Homo sapiens: one gene and its partner. The protein of the gene in region 1 purifies or fractionates together with the protein of each later gene. This does not show direct contact. Each region holds a gene or a part of one and is shown in the gene's direction. Other genes may lie near its edges.

Evidence for each region.
Region 2: the proteins of TTC5 (region 1) and TCP11L1 purify together in Homo sapiens (affinity purification with mass spectrometry; 2 studies listed by BioGRID and IntAct, with this or other methods). This does not show direct contact.

Annotation. Positions count from the first base shown.
Region 1 is NC_000014.9:20,301,501-20,311,289, reverse strand, and holds the start of TTC5 (tetratricopeptide repeat protein 5), read left to right. Parts: upstream 1-5,338; 5' UTR 5,339-5,352; coding exon 5,353-5,403; intron 5,404-9,324; coding exon 9,325-9,457; intron 9,458-9,789. UniProt on the Homo sapiens protein: Cofactor involved in the regulation of various cellular mechanisms such as actin regulation, autophagy, chromatin regulation and DNA repair.
Region 2 is NC_000011.10:33,062,039-33,071,205, forward strand, and holds part of TCP11L1 (T-complex protein 11-like protein 1), read left to right. Parts: intron 1-3,791; coding exon 3,792-3,973; intron 3,974-6,648; coding exon 6,649-6,821; intron 6,822-9,167.

The DNA of each region.
Region 1 (9,789 bases):
TTAATTTTTATTTTTTTTATTGATCATTCTTGGGTGTTTCTCGCAGAGGGGGATTTGGCAGGGTCATAGGACAATAGTGGAGGGAAGGTTGGCAGATAAACAAGTGAACAAAGGTCTCTGGTTTTCCTAGGCAGAGGACCCTGCAGCCTTCCGCAGTGTTTGTGTCCCTGGGTACTTGAGATTAGGGAGTGGTGATGATTCTTAACGAGCATGCTGCCTTCAAGCATCTGTTTAACAAAGCACATCTTGCACCGCCCTTAATCCATTTAACCCTGAGTGGACACAGCACATGTTTCAGAGGGCACAGGGTTGGGGGTAAGGTCACCGATCAACAGGATCCCAAGGCAGAAGAATTTATCTTAGTACAGAACAAAATGAAAAGTCTCCCATGTCTACTTCTTTCTACACAGACACGGCAACCATCCGATTTCTCTATCTTTTCCCCACATTTCCCCCCTTTCTATTCCACAAAACCGCCATTGTCATCCCGGCCCGTTCTCAAAGAGCTGTTGGGTACACCTCCCAGACGAGGTGGTGGCTGGGCAGAGGGGCTCCTCACTTCCTAGTAGGGGTGGCCGGGCAGAGTCGCCCCTCACCTCCCGGACGGGGCGGCTGGCCGGGCGGGGGGCTGACCCCCCCACCTCCCTCCCGGACGGGGCGGCTGGCCGGGCGGGGGGCTGGCCCCCCCACCTCCCTCCCGGACGGGGCGGCTGGCTGGGCAGAGGGGCTCCTCACTTCCCAGTAGGGGCGGCTGGGCAGAGGCGCCCCTCACCTCCTGGACGGGGCAGCTGGCCGGGCGGGGGGCTGACCCCCCCACCTCCCTCCCGGACGGGGCGGCTGGCTGGGCAGAGGGGCTCCTCACTTCCCAGTAGGGGCGGCCGGGCAGAGGCGCCCCTCACCTCCCGGACGGGGCGGCTGGCCGGGTGGGGGGCTGACCCCCCCACCTCCCTCCCGGACGGGGCGGCTGGCCGGGCGGGGGGCTGACTCCCCCACCTCCCTCCTGGACGGGGTGGCTGGCCAGGCAGAGGGGCTCCTCACTTCCCAGTAGGGGCGGCTGGGCAGAGGCGCCCCTCACCTCCCGGACGGGGCGTCTGGCCGGGTGGGGGGCTGACTCCCCCACCTCCCTCCCGGACGGGGCGGCTGCCGGGCGGAGACGCTCCTCACTTCCCAGACGGGGTGGCTGCCGGGCGGAGGGGCTCCTCACTTCTCAGATGGGGCGGATGCTGGGCGGAGGGTCTCCTCACTTCTCAGACGGGGCGGCTGGGCAGAGACGCTCCTCACCTCCCAGACGGGGCGGCGGGGCAGAGGCGCTCCCCACATCTCAGACGATGGGCGGCCGGGCAGAGACGCTCCTCACTTCCCAGACGGGATGGCTGCCAGGAAGAGGCGCTCCTCACTTCCTAGATGGGATGGCGGCCGGTCAGAGACGCTCCTCACTTTCCAGACTGGGCAGCCAGGCAGAGGGGCTCCTCACGTCCCAGACGATGGGCGGCCAGGCAGAGACGCTCCTCACTTCCCAGACGGGGTGGCGGCCGGGCAGAGGCTGCAATCTCGGCACTTTGGGAGGCCAAGGCAGGCGGCTGGGAGATGGAGGTTGTAGCGAGCTGAGATCATGCCACTGCACTCCAGCCTGGGCACCATTGAGCACTGAGTGAACCAGACTCCGTCTGCAATCCCGGCACCTCGGGAGGCCAAGGCTGGCGGATCACTCGCGGTTAGGAGCTGGAGACCAGCCCGGCCAACACAGTGAAACCCCGTCTCCACCAAAAAAGTACGAAAACCAGTCAGGCGTGGTGGCGCGCGCCTGCAATCGCAGGCCCTCGGCAGGCTGAGGCAGGAGAATCAGGCAGGGAGGTTGCAGTGAACCGAGATGGCAGCAGTACAGTCCAGTTTCGGCTCGGCATCAGAGGGAGACAGTGGAAAGAGAGGGAGAGGGAGACCGAGAGGGAGAGGGGAGAGGGGAGAGGGGAGAGGGGAGAGGGGAGAGGGAGAGGGAGAGGCAGAGGCAGAGGCAGGGGCAGGGGCAGGGTAGCAAATCTTTTTTCTAGATAGGACTCCCCAGCTTCTCTGTGCTTTTAAGTCTCTGAAGTTGTTTTCACATTATCAACATAACAAACTCATTGGCAGTGGGGAGTGGTTTAGAGTCTGGTTTCTTTGTTTCTATTATTTAAAGCATAAGCATTTTATTAGTCTCAATTCCATTGTGAACTGCTGAATTTTCATCCCTAGTGTGAGAAGGTCACAATAGTATTTGTTTCAATAGATAACTCTTTCTCCCTGTGCTGTTTCTCACTGAGCTGTGGTGTTTATGCCTTAAGTACCTGTGTTATATGCTACATGTTGCTTTGAATTCTGGTATTTATGCATATCTGTATATGTAAGTATGTTAATGTACACTGATATTTTGCTGTATTTGCCAGTATGTTTATGTGAAAATTTTGGTCTTGGAAAATGGTGGGTGATGTGTAGCTTGTTATTTGGGTGTGTGTATTTATTTGTATATATTTATGTATTTACCTTCGTATTGTTTGGAGGTGTGCTTATGTCAGTGAACGAGAGTACAATTTGATGCATGTATGTTCAGTCCCTATTTGTATTTAAAAATAACTCACGTTGATGAAGTTATTTTTTAAAGTTAATTTTTTTGGCATTTACAGTCGGTGCTCTGTATCCATAGGTTCTGCTTCTGCAGATTCAGCCAACCATATATCAAAAATATTTGAGAAAAAATAATATAAAAAAATACAAATTAAAAACCAATACTATATAACAACTATTTGGATAGCATTTACATTGTAGGTATTATAAATAATTTAGAGGTGATTTAAAGTATTTGGGAGAATCTGTAGGTTATATGCAAATACCATGCCATTTTATAAAAGTGACATGAACATCCAAGGATTTTGGTATCCATGAGGGTTCCTGGAACCAATCCCCCAAAGATACCAAAGGAAGACTGTATTTTAAAATAAAGCTACTTCTTTACCTTTTTGTCAACTATTGCCTTGGGTTTACTTATTTAGGAATGCACTTCTGCAGAAAGTTTACCAATGTGTTATTGATCTCGAGATTGTATTAAAATAAAAGATTTATTTATTGTTTTCCTTTATTTAGTGAGTATTTCTGACTATTATTATGGGAATTAAATTGTTTATGCATTTATTTATTTAAAATGTAGAGCCATGATAGAAATTTGAAGGACATTCTCAGTAACTTTATGTCCTGTTAGAGGAAAGATTTGAAAGCATACTGGCTGGAGAGGCAGAAGATCTGGGTTCTGGTTTCTACTTAGTTTGAACTTTCTTGGACTTAGTCTCTGTATCTGTAAAATGAAGGACTGAATTAAGTTATCCTTACAGCCTTTTCTAACTCTTAAATTTTAGGATTGATTCTTAATGGTTTAAGATGTGTTAACAATGGAATTACCCTAAATGTCAAATCCCATTGTTTTTTAGGTAATAAAAATTATACTGAAATCATTTGAAGATATATTTAGTCATTGTAGAAAGGCAATTAAATACCCCTGCTTTACATAATTGAAAAGCAAGTAGTGTTTCCTTCACTAGGAATATAGAGTATAAAATCTCTTAAAAATTATTCTTAATGTGCACCAAAATTATTTATTACTGTTTTTTTGAGATGGAGTCTTGCTGTGTTGCCCAGGCTGGAGTGCAGTGGCAGCATCTTGGCTCACTGCAACCTCTGCCTCCTGGGTTCAAGTGGTTCTCCTGTCTTGGCCTCCCAAGTAGCTGGGATTACAGGTGCATGCCACCACACCTGGCTAATTTTTGTATCTTTAGTAGAGATGGGGTTTTACCACATTGGCCAGGCTTGTCTTGAACTGACCTCAAGTGATCTGCCCGCCTTGGCCTCCCAAAGTGCTGGGATTACAGGTGTGAGCCACCGTGCCCAGCCTCGTGTGCACCAAAGTTAAAATGTCTGAGAAAGAGGATGAAAAATTTTAAAGTTTTAGGGCCGGGTGTGGTGGCTCACGCCTGTAATCCTAGCACTTTGGGAAGCTGAGGCGGGTGAATCATGAGGTCAGGAGATCGAGACCATCCTGGCTAACACGGTGAAATCCCGTCTCTACTAAAAATACAAAAAATTAGCCGGGCGTGGTGGTATGCACCTGTAGCCCCAGCTACTCGGGAGGCTGAGGCGGGAGAATCGCTTGAACCTGGGAGGCCGAGGTTGCAGTGAGCCGAGATGGCGCCATTGCACTCCAGCCTGGGCTACACAGTGAGACTCCATCTCAAAAAAAAATTTTTAAAACATCCCTCCCTATTTTACAGCTAACGACATAGATTTTATAGGTTACAATACAAACTATTTCCTTTATGTTGGAAAATGATTTGAGGAAATGATTTTATGTATATTCATGATTTCTGCCTTGAACGTTTTACTTCTTTGTTAGTTTCACAGAATCAGCTTGAAGCTGTAATTAAAACTAAAAAAGTAAAGCAAAACTGCCAGGAATATTACATGACACTTTAAAAGATTTATTCAGAAGTTTAATATATTCACAAGGTACAAACTTTAAAGTTACAAAAAAGGCATAGAGTGAAAAGTCTACCCCAGTTCCCTGGTCACTCATTTTTGCTCCAGCCACTCACTTCTGCTCTTTGTAAGCGATAGTCTTGCCAGTGTCTTGTGTCTCTTTCCAGAGACTATGTAGAAGCAAATAATTTTTTATTTAAAAATGTTTATATTTGAATAGGTGATACATATAGATGGCAAGAAAATTCAAAAGGGCAGGCAGTGAAAATTTTCTTCGCTCACCCACAGTTCCCCAGTTTCTGTGTTTCCCTCTGCAGAGACAGTCATCCTTTCTTATATATCCTTCTGGATGTTGTCTATAAATATGGAGGCATTGTTAGTGTAGAGCATGGTGGTTTTTATGAGCCATCCCAAGTGTAGTATTTATTAAGATAGTGCATTAAAATGATAAAATTAATCATACATAGAAAATTACTGCAAAGTTTGGAAAAGATTGAGTAAAGTAGCTATTGTACTACATGGCTTTCGAAATTTCAAACAACACAGGTGTGCACTTCTTAAACTCTCTTCTTTATGGAGTATTATAATCTTAGTATAAATAAGTAGGAAGACATGAAACAAGAATATAGAAATTAAGCTGAGGACATTTTGTTTCCAGGATCTGGGAAAGAAAGAAGTTTATGAACTCACAAGTGATTGTAGAGCATCTCTGTGGAAATAAATGGTTAAGTCGGTTTGAAGCAAAGCCCTTCTGGGGCAGAAAAGCCTCCAGAACGCCAGATGTCGCTGTGGTTCCGCGGTGAGAGAGGGCGTGCGTCTCTGTGGTTATAAAGTTGGGGGTGGAGTGGCCGGGAGATGATGGCTGATGAAGAGGAAGAAGTCAAGCCGATCTTGCAGAAATTGCAGGTGGGGCCGTAGATTAAATTCTGTATGTGTTTTTGTTACTCCGAATGAAGCAGGGAGTCCAGTTTATGTACTGCCCGTGAATTCCTCGGCACACACGCGAAGCTGCGTGCGTCTGTGTGGTTACTATAACAACCCTCGAGGGTGCAGCCGCAGCCAGCCAGGGAGCCTCGTTGGAACCTCCTGCTGCCGACCTGACTGCGGTTAATTTCAGTCCTGTATGGAAGAAGATTTGTTGCTCCTAACTGTTCATGTACATTTTTAGAGAGGACGTTGTTTTCTCGATTCATCCATAGCGAATAGCATATACATGTGTGTGGCAGATCTGCATGAACTACTGTCACATGTTGTTTTGATCCCTACAAAAGCCATTTAACACCTTTCTGCTTTGAATTTGGCAACAATCACGCTAATGACCTGCACTGCAAGTGTCCTGGTTACTCCCCTTAGGATTTCAGTTTTGATTTCTTTCAACCTGTGTAATTCCACTTTGGGGTCTGATGCAGAGGGGTCCAGACTCCACATAGTCCACAGGTAAGACTAGTCTTTTGGACTTGGTAGGGAGGCGTTAACTAGTTGCTTGGCTCTTTGCCTTTAAGAACCCATGATTTTCCTTACACCTCAGGAACTCAGTTCTTCGTTCTAAGGCAGCCTGTAACTTAAATATTAGAACTATGACAGGCTTGTAACTTGCCTAAAGGTGTTTAACGCACAAATTTAAATACTGGTGAAATTTCTTTGTTCTTGGGTACATTAAAATAGTAACACTTTTTAGAGTGTTCCAGCTGATTTGGATTAACTTCATTTTATTCCCTAACTGTGACTGGCTGAAATCAGAGATTCTCAATTCTGGTTCTATATTAGAAACATTATTTGTGTATATATGTTTGTATATGCACAGAAAAAAATCTGAAAAGGTATACAAATCAGTGGTTATCACTGAGGTTCTTTGGGGTAATTTTGTACTTTCTTTTTTTTACATGTATCTATTTGAATTTTAACAACTTACATGTATTGATTTTGCCATGAAAAAATAAGTTTCTAAAAACATTCAGTCCAGAGGAAAACAAAACCAAACAATAAAACCAAACAACTTCTTGAATGTTTGGTTTAACAACTAAAACCAATCAATAAGCCCTTCTCTAAAACTCTTAATTTGCAGCCATGTTGATTGCAGGACAAAAGGAAATTGGTTGTAATTTTTTATGAGAATTGTCTTTTCCTAGGTTCATTTGTGGTAAATGTCCTAAGCAGCTTGGGAGAGGATACTTCCGTTATCTTGGGGTGGGGTCGGTGCAGGAATGGAATAAAGGAGTGAAGTAGAGAAGAGGAAAAGGATTAGATAATGGTGTTGCTGTTCATGGAGATGGTGGTAAACTTTGATTTCATTGTTAAAGACATTTTAGTGTAAAAAGAGTGTATAAATGGATATTTCTCAAAGTGTGTTTTACAGACAGTTTCATTACAGTCATCTGGGGTGCCTGTTAAAAATGTAGAATTTTGAGTTCTGCTAAACTGTTAAAATCAGAGTCTCTGCAGGCTGGGTCTTGGATATAATACAATAAAATTTGCAGAGGGTGCTAGTCTGTTCCCTTCATTCTGGATAGGATTTTAAATTAAGTATAGCACATATGTATTTGTTAGAACAGGGATAGTTAGTTAGTTAATTCAATCAAGTGTAGTGAATTAGAGCCTATCATGTCCCAAGTCCCGTTCTGGTGCTCAGGTGTAGCTCGAAACAAAACAGATTAAAGGCCTTTCCATCCTGGAGCTTACATTTCAGTGGTGGAGGCAGACAATAGACAATTAATGATAGGCCACATGATTTTAAATAAGTATGAAGAAAAATAAGAGTATGATATAACAGTAGAGGAGAGAAGGAATGGATTCATTTGGGTTGAGTAATTAGGGAAAACCTTTCTGGAATTGATATTTGACCTAAGATCTAAATGATGATGAGGAATAAGTTATGCAGAGATCTGGAGAAAGTGTCCAGGCATAAGGTCTTCCAGGTGGGCTGAGCTTGATGGGTTTGAGAAACTGCATGAAGGCAACTCTGGCTTGAGTATTGTAGGAGAGAGAATGGTGAGAGGTGAAGTTTGTGTCAGGATGGGTGGTGGTAGGTCAGCTCATACAGTCTTCTAGGTCATGATAAGGACTTGGATTTTATTCTGTCTGCAATGGGAAACTATTTGAAGGTTTGTGATATGATGTACGTTTTTTATAAGATCACTCCCACTACAGTGAGGAGAATGGGAGAGAACAGAAACAAGATGACTGGTTAAGAAGCTCTTGCAGTCCAGGCAAGTAATGAAGCTGATGTAATCCAGGAATGGTCATAGTGGGATGGAGACAGGTGGATGAATTCAGGATGTGTTGTGAAGATTGTTGATTACACTCGAAGGGAAGTGATTATATCTTTCTGCTGCTATCTATTTAGTTTCAGGAAAGAATAGGATATCTGTTATCTGAAATGCTTAGGACTCGAAGTTTTTTGGATTTTGGATTTTTTTGAATTTTGGAATATCTGCATATACATAATGAGATAACTTGGGGATGGGACCCAAATCTAAATATGAAACTTGGTGGCTTATGCCTGTAGTCCCAGCACTTTGGGAGGCTGAGGTGGGAGCATTGCTTGAAATCAGGAGTTTGAGACCAGCCTGGGCAACCTACGAGACTCTTTTTTTTTTTTTTTTGAGACGGAGTCTTGCTCTGTTGCCAGGCTGGAGGGCAGTGGCATGATCTTGGCTCACTGCAACCTCTGCCTCCCAGGTTCAAGCGATTCTCCTGCCTCAGCCTCCCGAGTAGGTGGGACTACAGGTGTGCGCCACCATGCCTGGCTAATTTTTGTATTTTTAGTAGAGACCGGGTTTCACCATGATGGCCAGGATGGTTTCGATCTCTTCATGATCCGTCTGCCTTGGACTACCAAAGTGCTAGGATTACAGGCATGAGCCACCACGCCTGGTGACCCTGTCTTTTAAAAAAGAAAAAAAAAAAATTGTTTCATTTACACTTTATACACATAGGCTGAAAGTAATTTGATACAATATTTTTAATAATTTTGTGCCTGAAACAACGTTTTGACCGCATTTTGACTGTGTGTCAGGTGTGGAATTTTCTACTTGTGGTGTCAGCGTTTCAAAAGTTTCAGATTTTGGAGGATTTCAGATTTTTGCATTAGGGATGCTTGACCTGTAGTAGAAAAGCTTTGCCTGGTGTGACAGGAAGACTCAGAGGCATTTAAGAGGAAAGAGAATATTTATTTGTAAAAAATCCAAGGCAGCCAGAAGATGACTTGACAAAAAAATCAAACTAAACAAAACCACAATAAGCATTTAAAAGAACAAAATGCTGCAAAGATACCAAAGTTACCAAGTTCAAATTGGTATGTTTGTGGTGGAAAACAATGACTCTCTAACATGTTTATTATATTCACAAAGGTTGTGTTGTATTTTCAGATCTCAGCATATGAAAAATCAGGGATAAAATGGTTTTAGTTGAGAAGTCCAACTTTAAGGGTAAATTTCAAAGTGTTATTCTTTGAGGACCAGGACCATATAGAATGATCTTACTAACTTTTGGTTTATCTTAAGTTGCAGTGTTTCCCTCCTCATGACTGTGGTATGTGAAGTGCTTAGTCATATTAGAAGCCCTGCTGAGGCAGGGAGAGAAAATGGTCATCACAATAGAGACACTGGCATGGGACAACATGGGACCATGAGAGCTGGCCTGGGGTACTGGCTGCTTTTCCTCATGATTTGTGGCATTTTAGTAAACCTGTCCACCTGCCTATTGTGCCATTCATAGGTGAGAAAGAGAATTGGTATTTCTAGACCAAGAGCTGGTATGGCTAGCCAATTTCAAGTTTCCCTATCCAGTGATCTTTCCACTTAATGGTTCCATTGTCATACTTTTTAGGAACTCGTGGATCAGCTCTACTCATTTCGAGACTGCTATTTCGAGACACATAGTGTTGAGGATGCTGGGAGGAAGCAACAGGATGTGCAGAAGGAGATGGAGAAAACCCTACAGCAGATGGAAGAAGTAGTGGGTATGAGCCCTAGAGATTGTACAACCCCCATCCTTCAGTGAAATGTGATTGACCTTTGCTCCCTCCTCATTGACTCTTTGGTATCCTATCTGTTACTGCTATAGGGTAGTACAACGTAATACTACTTCTCAGGGCCCCTGTGCAACCTTTCATTCCCTAAGCCACTTTTCCTAAAATTTGATTATAGCAAATGGCATGAAATGAAAGAGCATACTTACTTGAACTATTGCAGTAATCTGACTTTCTGCCTCTAATTTCTTTTACTTTCAAATCCACTTATATAATACCATGGCCATGGCTATCTTTCTAAATCATTACTTCATGCATTTAAC
Region 2 (9,167 bases), on another chromosome or scaffold:
CCACTGCACTCCAGCCTGGGCGACAGAGCGAGACTCTGTCTCAAAAAATAAAAATAAATAAGTAAATAAATAAAATAAAAAATAAAAAGAATAGCTTTATTCTGATATAATTCATGTACCAGAAGATTCTCCCTTTTAAAGTGTACAACTCAGTGTTTTCTAGTATAGTCACAGAGTTACGCATCCATTGCCACTGTTTAATTGAGAACATTTTCATCACCTCCAATAGAAACGCTGCATCCATCAGCGGTCACTGCCCTCCCCCCCTCCCTCCAACGCCTGAAGCCACAGATCTGCTTTCTGTCTCTATGGATTTGCCTATCCTGGACATTTTATTTAAATGAAATCATACACTACCAGCCTTTTGTGCCTGGCTTCTTTCACCAATGTTTTTTCACGTTGTAGCACATATAGCAGTAGTTTAGTCCTCTTTTCCACTGTGTTTTTTTTGTTGTTGTGGTAAAATACACATAACATAAAATTTACCATTTTAACCATTTCTAGTTGTCCAGTTCAGTGGCATTAAGTGCATCCACATTGTTGTGCAACCATTGCCACCAGCCACCTCCAAAACATTTTCATTTTTCCTTCTGTGAAACTGTCTTCCCACCAAACACACCAAACAGTAATTCCCATTGCCCCCGCCCTCTGGCCCCTGGCAGCCACCATTCTACTTTGAGTCTCTGTGAATTGGACTAATCCGGGTACTTAATATGAGTGGAATTATACAATCTTTGTCCTTTTGGGTCTGGCTTATTTTACTTAGCATAATGTCTTCAAGGTTCATTTATGTTGTAGTATGTGTCAGTGTTCCCTTTCTGGGTTTTTTAAAATTTTTTTAAATTTTAGAGACAGGGTCTCATTGAATTGCTCAGGCTAGGTGGTACGACAGCTCACTGTAACTTTGAACTTCAGGGCCCAAGTGATCCTCCTGCCTCAGCCTCCTGGGTAGCTAGGACTACAAGAGTGTACCACCACCCCCAGCTAATTTTTAAGTGTGTTTTTTGTGGAGACAGGGGTCTCGCTATGTTACTCAGGCTGATCTTAAACTCCTGGCCTCAAGTGGTCCTCCCTCCTTGGCCTCCCAGTGTTGGGATTACAGGCATGAGCTACCATGCCCAGCCCTCCTTTCTTTTTTAGGCTGAATAATATATTTTACTGTATGGATGTACCACATTTTGTTTATTCATTCATCAGTTGACAAACATTTGGGTTGTTATTATAAATTATGCTTCTGTGAATATTCCAGTACAAGTTTTTGCATGGACATATGTTTTTACCTCTCTTGGTTACGTACCTAGGATTAGAATTGCTGGGTTACATGGTGACTCTTAAGTTTAACATTTTGAGGAACTGCCAAACTGATTTCCAAAGCAGCTGCATCATTTTACCATCCCACCAGCAATGTATGAGGCTCCAGTCTGTGCTGCTGAATTTTTCTCCTGTTTTTACTCATCTTGATGGAAACCACAACAGAGGTGTGGTTGTTCACAGCTTTATCTAAAGAAACTTCTTCCCCTTCCATGCTGAACAATATTTTTTTCTTTTTATGTTTTTCACAATACATACTTCTAACTGCAAGACCTCTTTAAGAAGATGACTAAGAAGGGATTCCCCCAGTGTTTCTCTAAATAGCTGTTTTGTTATGTAGACTCCCCCTCTCTTTTTGGGGGGTACGTGAGCTTCTTATCACTAGCCTCAGATCCAGATACTTCTCTAAATATCTTTCTTATAAGTTCCTTATTTTTCCTTTCAAGAAGTTGTGAGCTTAAGGTTTCACCTCTTGCCTCTGAGTTCCCCGTTTTGTGCTGGAGGAAGCTCTAAAGAGAATGTCAAATTGGAGATGGGAAAATGTTCCCTTTGAACTGTGGCATGTTCTCTTCTGGAGGGAAGTTCTCAGCCTGACATGTCTATTTAAAAATAGCTGTGGGAGACCATCCAATACCTCCCTTTTCCCCACCGCTGATCATCTTCCCCAGGCCTTAGATACCCCTGCTTCTTCATCCCATAAATATCCCTAAGCCCTCTCTATGGAGAGGGGGATGTGAGACCTGTTCTCCAGCCTCCTCACTTGGCAGTCTTATGAATAAACCCTCTCGTAAAAAAAATAAATAGAAAAGAAAAGAAAAGAAACGCTGTGGGGAAGATGGTGATGGTCCCTGGGGACAGCTGTCTACTCCAGGAATTGATCCTTGGCAATCTGCATCCTAAACTCACGTCCTGCTGTTGGGAAGCCACAAAGCCATGTGAAGTCAGAAAACAGGCCGACGATGAGTCCTTGGGATTGTATTTGTATCAGCAGAGGATTCTCAATCCTCAGGGTTTTTACTTCTTGGCTGTGACCCACATTGTTCATGTCTTGACTTGGCAAATCTCAGTTTCTGACAGCAAGAAAGGTCCTTAGAGTCCATTCGATGAGCCTGTAAACTCTCAGATCAGATTCCCATCTGTGCAGCCTTTCCCTTCTCCTTCCCTCAGCCACACGGGTGGGGGCGCTGGCATGGTAGGACCCAGGACTGTCTTTAACATGGGGGAGGCAGTCATGGGAATGTGCTTGCTTTCCGGGAGGCTTTAGATTGTTCTCTGTCACTTCTACTCTCTGTGCTTCCTGTTTCTTTCTCTTCCTCTTTATTTACTCGCCAGTTCTTACAAGCTTCCTTTGTGCTGGGTGCTGAGCGGATACCAAGATGAATAAGTGTAGGCTCTGCCTGCAAGGCAGTCCTCCCTTCCATTGCTCTGGGATTTTTGTTGTTGTTGTTTTAAGATGGAGTCTCACTATGTTGTCCAAGCTGCAGTGTAGTGGCTATTCACAGGCATAATCGTAGTGCACTGCAGCCTCGAAATTCCGGCCTCAGTGATCTTCCTGCCTGAGCCTCCCAGTAGCTGGGACTGCAGGCACCCACCATCGCACCTGGCCTTCCATTGCTCTGTACAGGGTGACTGGCTGTCCTAGTTTGCTAGGGACTGAGTGAGGGTTCACAGGACTTGGGAATTTCCATTTGAAAACTGGGACAGTCCCAGACAAACTGGGAGGAGTTGGTGACCCTAGGTCTGTGCCTCATTATACTTTTCTTCCTAACAATAAGTATAACTTTTATTTATCGAGTGCTGGCTCTGCCAGCCACTTTATATGTAGCATCTTTCTTCAGCTTTAAAACAGCCCTGTGATGTGGGAGTCCCCATTCTGCAGAGGCCCGACAAAGTTGGGGATGCATGCATGAGGTCATGCTATTTTTTTTTTTGAGAAGGAGTTTCACTCTTGTTGCCCAGGCTGAAGTACCAAGGTGCAATCTCAGCTCACTGCAACCTCTGCTTCCTGGGTTCAAGAGATTCTCCTGCCTCATCCTCCCGAGTAGCTGGTATTATAGGCATGCACCACCACACCCGGCTAGTTTTGTATTTTTAGTAGAGATGGGGTTTTACCATGTTGGTCAGGCTGGTCTTGAACTCCTGACCTCAGGTGATCTGCCCACCTCGGCCTCCCAAAGCGCTGGGATTACAGGCGTGAGCCACCGCGGCCAGCCGGGGAGGTCATGGTATTAAGCACGGAGCCTGGCTTTACACCCAGGCCTGTCTGTGTTCTTAGTGAGGGCGCTATACTGCATCCTTGCTCAGGAGGAACGGCTCTGAGATAGAGGGGTTATTTCACACCAGACTCCCTCAAAGCTCTGACACACTAGCGCAAACCCTGAGGGAAGCTGCAGAGGCAGGTGTGGGGGCTGTGGCGCTCCCGCCCTCTGCTGGCCAACCTGGACCTGCAGCTCAGCGATGGCCTCTTCTATTCATTACAGACAGTTTTAATGGACCAGTCTCGCTTCCACGAGCTCCAGTTGCAGCTGGAACAACTGACCATCCTGGGGGCTGTGTTGCTGGTCACCTTCAGCATGGCAGCGCCAGGAATTTCCAGCCAGGCCGACTTTGCTGAGAAACTCAAGATGATTGTGAAGATTTTGCTAACAGATATGCACCTGCCGTAAGTGGAACTTTGATGCGTGGATGGGACGCAGTGGATGTCAGAGAGCCGACTGGAGTCTCCCAGAGGGGTCTCCCACTGTAAGGCAGAGCCCAGGGCCACTCTCTAGGAACTGAGAAGAAACCTTGCTGTCTCAGTTGGTTCACTTGGCGAAGACCCCAGCAGAGTTTATTTAGGGTCATAGGGTCAAAGTTAGAATCTGCTGCAGGGTTAGCAGAGCTCTAGGATAGTGGCTTCAAAATGTGTGTGACTAGCCGAGTAGCCTGTCGGGCCTTAGAGGCCACACCAAGGAGTTGGGTTATTGTCCTAAGAGCAGTAGGGAGCCATTGAAGGATTTGAAGCAAGAGGGGGAACGTAATTAGATTTATGCCCTTAAGTTTAAATTTTGGCATGGGGCACATAGTAGATGTGAGGGAGCATTTAGGAGGCGAGAGAAGAAGTGGCTCGGGCTGGGGGGTAAGCCATGAGCAGGGTGGGGAGCGCTGGTACCAATGGTTGCTTGCCTTGAGGAATTGGAGATCCCGGGCTTAGAGGTCCCGCGGCCCTCCATTCCCTGTTAGCATGCTCCTCCCGGGGCCTGGCTCGGTGTTGAGTGCCATCAACTCATTTGTTCTCCCTACGCAGGGAGCAGGATGCTGTCTGACCCCTTCCTTCTTTAATGGGGTTGTCTTTGTCTCCTGACCTCCAAGGTTCTTGTGTTTGTTTGTTGAGTGCTTTATTCCTCTCCCAAAGCCATTCAAATGTATTAAACTCTTACTGGAGCTTATGAAGAAACTGGAACCCAGAGACATTAATTGGGACAAAAATGTTTGTGACTAGGACCTGCAGTAAGAAATTCATTTTCCATTGTGACCTAGTACACACTTAACACACGTGTAACAGAAACGAAAACTTCTCAAACTGGAACTGACCCTAACTGTGTTTAATGCAGCCTGATTGTTTCTACTCTATTCTTATTCCATTAAAAAAAAAAATTGGTTGCTACCCACTGAATTGCTTTCATAACCGACTAACAGTGAAAAGCAGAGCCCTAGAGGAAGGTCATGAGAGAAACCAGCTATATTCCTGCAGAGCTGCATGTATGTGGTTGAAGTGTTCTGCCCTTGCTTGTTCCCTGTAGGCGTTCTGTGCTCAGTGTAATGCATCATTTTCTTACCCAGCACGAGTCCGCATCTGCACGCGTGCAGGCTTCAGTGACCGCTCCTACCATGGAGTCATGTTGGGTGACTTCTATGGTTTCCAGCCTATAGAATATCTTTGAGTGGTTCTAAGTAAATGCTCTATCTAACAAGGTCCAATTCAGAGACTTCTTCAAGGGAAGTACCCCCTAAACATTCTCATCCTTACAAAATGGAGGAATTTTACTGCTGAATTTTCACAAAGCATGGCTGTGTTCAGTGCAGTGTGGGGCGTGTCCGTAAGTTGTGACTAGGGCCTCAACAGTTTTGACAGTCAAACTAGTTTGCTGAGAGGCCAGGAAACTTGTTTGCTCAGCTGAGGGCCTAGCCTGAGGCCTTTGCACAGGTACAGCTCTGGGCTGTCACCTAGGTCCCCTGCCTGGAGAACTACTCTGTCAAAGCTCCCGCTGAGGGTGGGATCCAGGTCAGTGCTTTCTTGGGAGCCCAGCCTTGCACTCCCATATCCTCCCTGGTCCTCCAGGGGTGGGCACAGAGCTGGTGCCAATGGTGAGTGCCAGGGCTTGCTCCCATGCCCCCCAGTAATTCTACATACAAAGGATCTAGACCCACAACAGAGGCAGTTACCTTCTCACAGCATGCCTGCCAGCATGGGGGCTCCCCACAGGCACCCTGGGAGAGCCTGGGGGACCCAGGGTATCCAGGTACTCTTTTTTTTTAACTTTAGGATTTCACTTTTCGTTATTCTTTTATTTTTTAAAAATTTTTTAATTTTTATATATTTTTTTATTTTTTTGTGATGGAGTTTCACTCTTGTTGCCCAGGCTGGAGTGCAATGACGTGATCTCGGCGTCCACTTCCTGGATTCAAGTGATTCTCCTACCACAGTCTCCTGAGTAGCTGGGATTACAGGCACCTATCACCATGCCCAGCTAATCTTTTTGTATTTTTAGTAGAGATGGGGTTTCACCATGTTGGCCAGGCTGGTCTTGAACTCCTGACCTAGAACTCCTGATCCATCTGCCTTGGCCTCCCAAAGTTCTGGGATTATAGGCGTGAGCCACTGAGCCCGGCCTCTTTATTCTTTTAAAATTAGTTAATACATGTGTATGTTTCAAAAATCAAAAGGTACAAAAGGGCATCCAATGAAGAGTTTCTCTCTCCCTCTTGTCCCACAGCTACCAAATGCCTGCTTTCTTGTGTATTCCTCCAGAGGTATATCAAGATATTCTGAGGTCATTCCAGGCTGATTTTATCACACAGAGGCTAGCAGGAAGTTGTGCTTTGGGTCGTTGGTCCTGGTATACTCTGAGCCCCTGCCCTTCCCACTGTCCTTTCTAGCAGAGGGAGAGAAAGAAAGTCCCCCTGGTCAGGTATGCACAGCCTGAGAGGTAAGGTGGCAGGGAAAAGAGTCTCAAATTGTCCCTTGAACACACAAATCCAGTTATTGGTGCCGTCATTCTCACCCGGGTGTGGGCGGTTGGAGCTGGTTAGAGGTGTATTTTACTTATAGGCCCTTTCTCCCCTCCTCTGCCCCAGCTCCTTCCATCTGAAGGACGTCCTCACTACCATCGGGGAGAAGGTGTGCCTGGAGGTGAGCAGCTGCCTCTCCCTGTGTGGGTCCTCTCCCTTCACCACGGACAAGGAGACCGTGCTCAAGGGCCAGATCCAGGCCGTGGCCAGTCCCGATGACCCCATTCGCAGGATCATGGGTACGTTTGGGGAAGGCAGGCAGCAGGGATGTGCCCTCTGAGGGGCTGGAGCACGAGTCCATCTGAAGAAACCTGAGGGCTCAGCTGGAGTTAAGGTGCTGATGGGTGAGGAGATGGTGTAATGAAGCACCACAGAGAGACCAGGGCCACCCAACAGATGGGCACAGGACCAGGCAGCCATCATTGTTCTAAGGGCTGCAACCTTGGAATCACTCTCCTGGGTTCACAAGCAGTGTCCCAGGGCAGCTTGGGCGTGTAACTTGACACTCGAGTTTCCTCATCTCTAAAGCAGGAATAAGGGCAGCAACCTTACAAGGTCGCTGCAGGAACTCCCTGGGATGAGAAGGTGAAGCGCTTTCCGTAGTGCCTGGCAGCACATAGTAAGTGCTCAGTAAATAGGAGCTGTTACGAAAAGAGCTGAATAGTAAAATGAAGATGTTATTTAAAAATACTATTAAAATATTATTAAATATTAGTATGTAATACTATTAACATATCAAATATAATAACTTAAAATGGTAATATTAAGATATTGCTATTTAAAATTTATAATAAACTTGAAGTATTAAAATATTTTAATGCATATTCTATAAAATATTTAAAATATTCTATAATATTAGCTATTAGTTATCACAGCAATGGCTTTATGAAAAATTCTGTTAATTAGCTCGACTTAATCATTTTGTAGTATATACATACATTTAAAACATCATGCTGTATGCTGTGAATACATAGTTTTGTTTGTTTGTTTTTGAGACAGGGTCTCACTCTGTCTTCCAGACTGGAGTGCAGTGATGCGATCTCGGCTCACTGCACTCCACCTCTGTGCTCCACCTCCCAGGCTCAAGCAGTCCTCCCACTTCAGACTCCCAAGTAGCTGGGACTACAGGCATGCACCACCACACCCAGCTAATTTTTTGTATATCTTCTAAAGATGGGGTTTTGCCTTGTTGGCCAGGCTGGTCTCAAATTCCTGGACTCAAGTGATCCGCCTGCCTCAGCCTCCCAAAGTGCTGGGGTTAACAGGCACGAACCACTGCATCCAGCCAAGATTTATACTCACAACCTTCATAGGGAGGCAGGAAAGTGCCTGTAAGTAGACCTGTGGCCAGCAAGTTGCTACTCATCCTGCTGCCTGGGTTGTTTTGTAATAGCCAGTTACCGACAGATTGAAAACCAGCCCTTAAGGGGAGGATCACTTAAAACCAGGAGTTCGAGACTATCTGGGCAGCATAGTGAGACCCCATCTCTACAAAAAATTAAAAAAAAAAAATTAGCCAGGTTAGTGACATGCATCTGTAGTCCTTGCTACTCGGGAGGCTGAGGCAGGAGGATCACTTGAGCCCAGGAGTTTGAGGCTGCAGTGAGCTACAATTTCACCACTGCACTCCAGCCTGGGTGACAGAGCAAGACCCTGTTTCTAAAAGAAAGAAAGAAAGAAAAGAAAAACCAGTCTTTGGGTAGGAACAATACAAAGATTTCTACTTCAGTGAGGCTGCCAGCCCTGGGAACCTTAGAGAACCAAACTAACTTAAGAATAAGGGTGCTGAGCACAGTGGCTCATGCCTATAATCCCAACATTTTGGGAGGCCGAGCCGGGCAGTTCACCTGAGATTGGAAGTTCGAGACCAGGCTGACCAACATGTAGAAACTCCGCCTTTACTAAAAATGCGAAATTAGCCAGGCATGGTGGTGCATGCCTGTGATGCTAGCTACTTGAGAGGCTGAGGCAGGATAATCGCTTGAACCTGAAAGGTGGAGATTGTGGTGAGCCGAGATTGTGCCATTGCACTCCAGCCTGGGCAATAAGAGCTAAAGTCTGTCTCAAAAAAAAAAAAAAAAAAAAGAATAAGGGTGATAGGGCCAGGTGTGATGACTCATGCCTGTAATCCCAGCATTTGGGAGGCCAAGGTGGGCAGATTACCTGAGGTCAGGAGTTTGAGACCAGCCTGGCCAACATGGTGAAACCCCGTCTCTACAAAAAATACAAAAATTTCCTGGGCATGGTGGCGTGTGCCTGTAATCCCAGGTACTCGGAAGGCTGAGGCAGGAGAGTCACTTGAACCCAGGAGGCGGGGGTTGCAGTGAGCCGAGATCGCGCCACTGCACTCCAGCCTGGGAGACGAGGGAAACTCCATCTCAAAAAAGAAAAAAAAAAGAAGAAGGGTGATAGGGCTGGGTGCAGTGGCTCACTCCTGTAGTTCCAGCACTTTGGGAGGCGGGGGCAGACGGATCACTTGAGGTCAGGAATTCAAGACCAGCCCGGGCAACATGGTGAAACCCCGCCTCTACTAATAATACAAAAATTAGCTGGGCATGGTGGCATGCGCCTGTAATCCCAGCTAC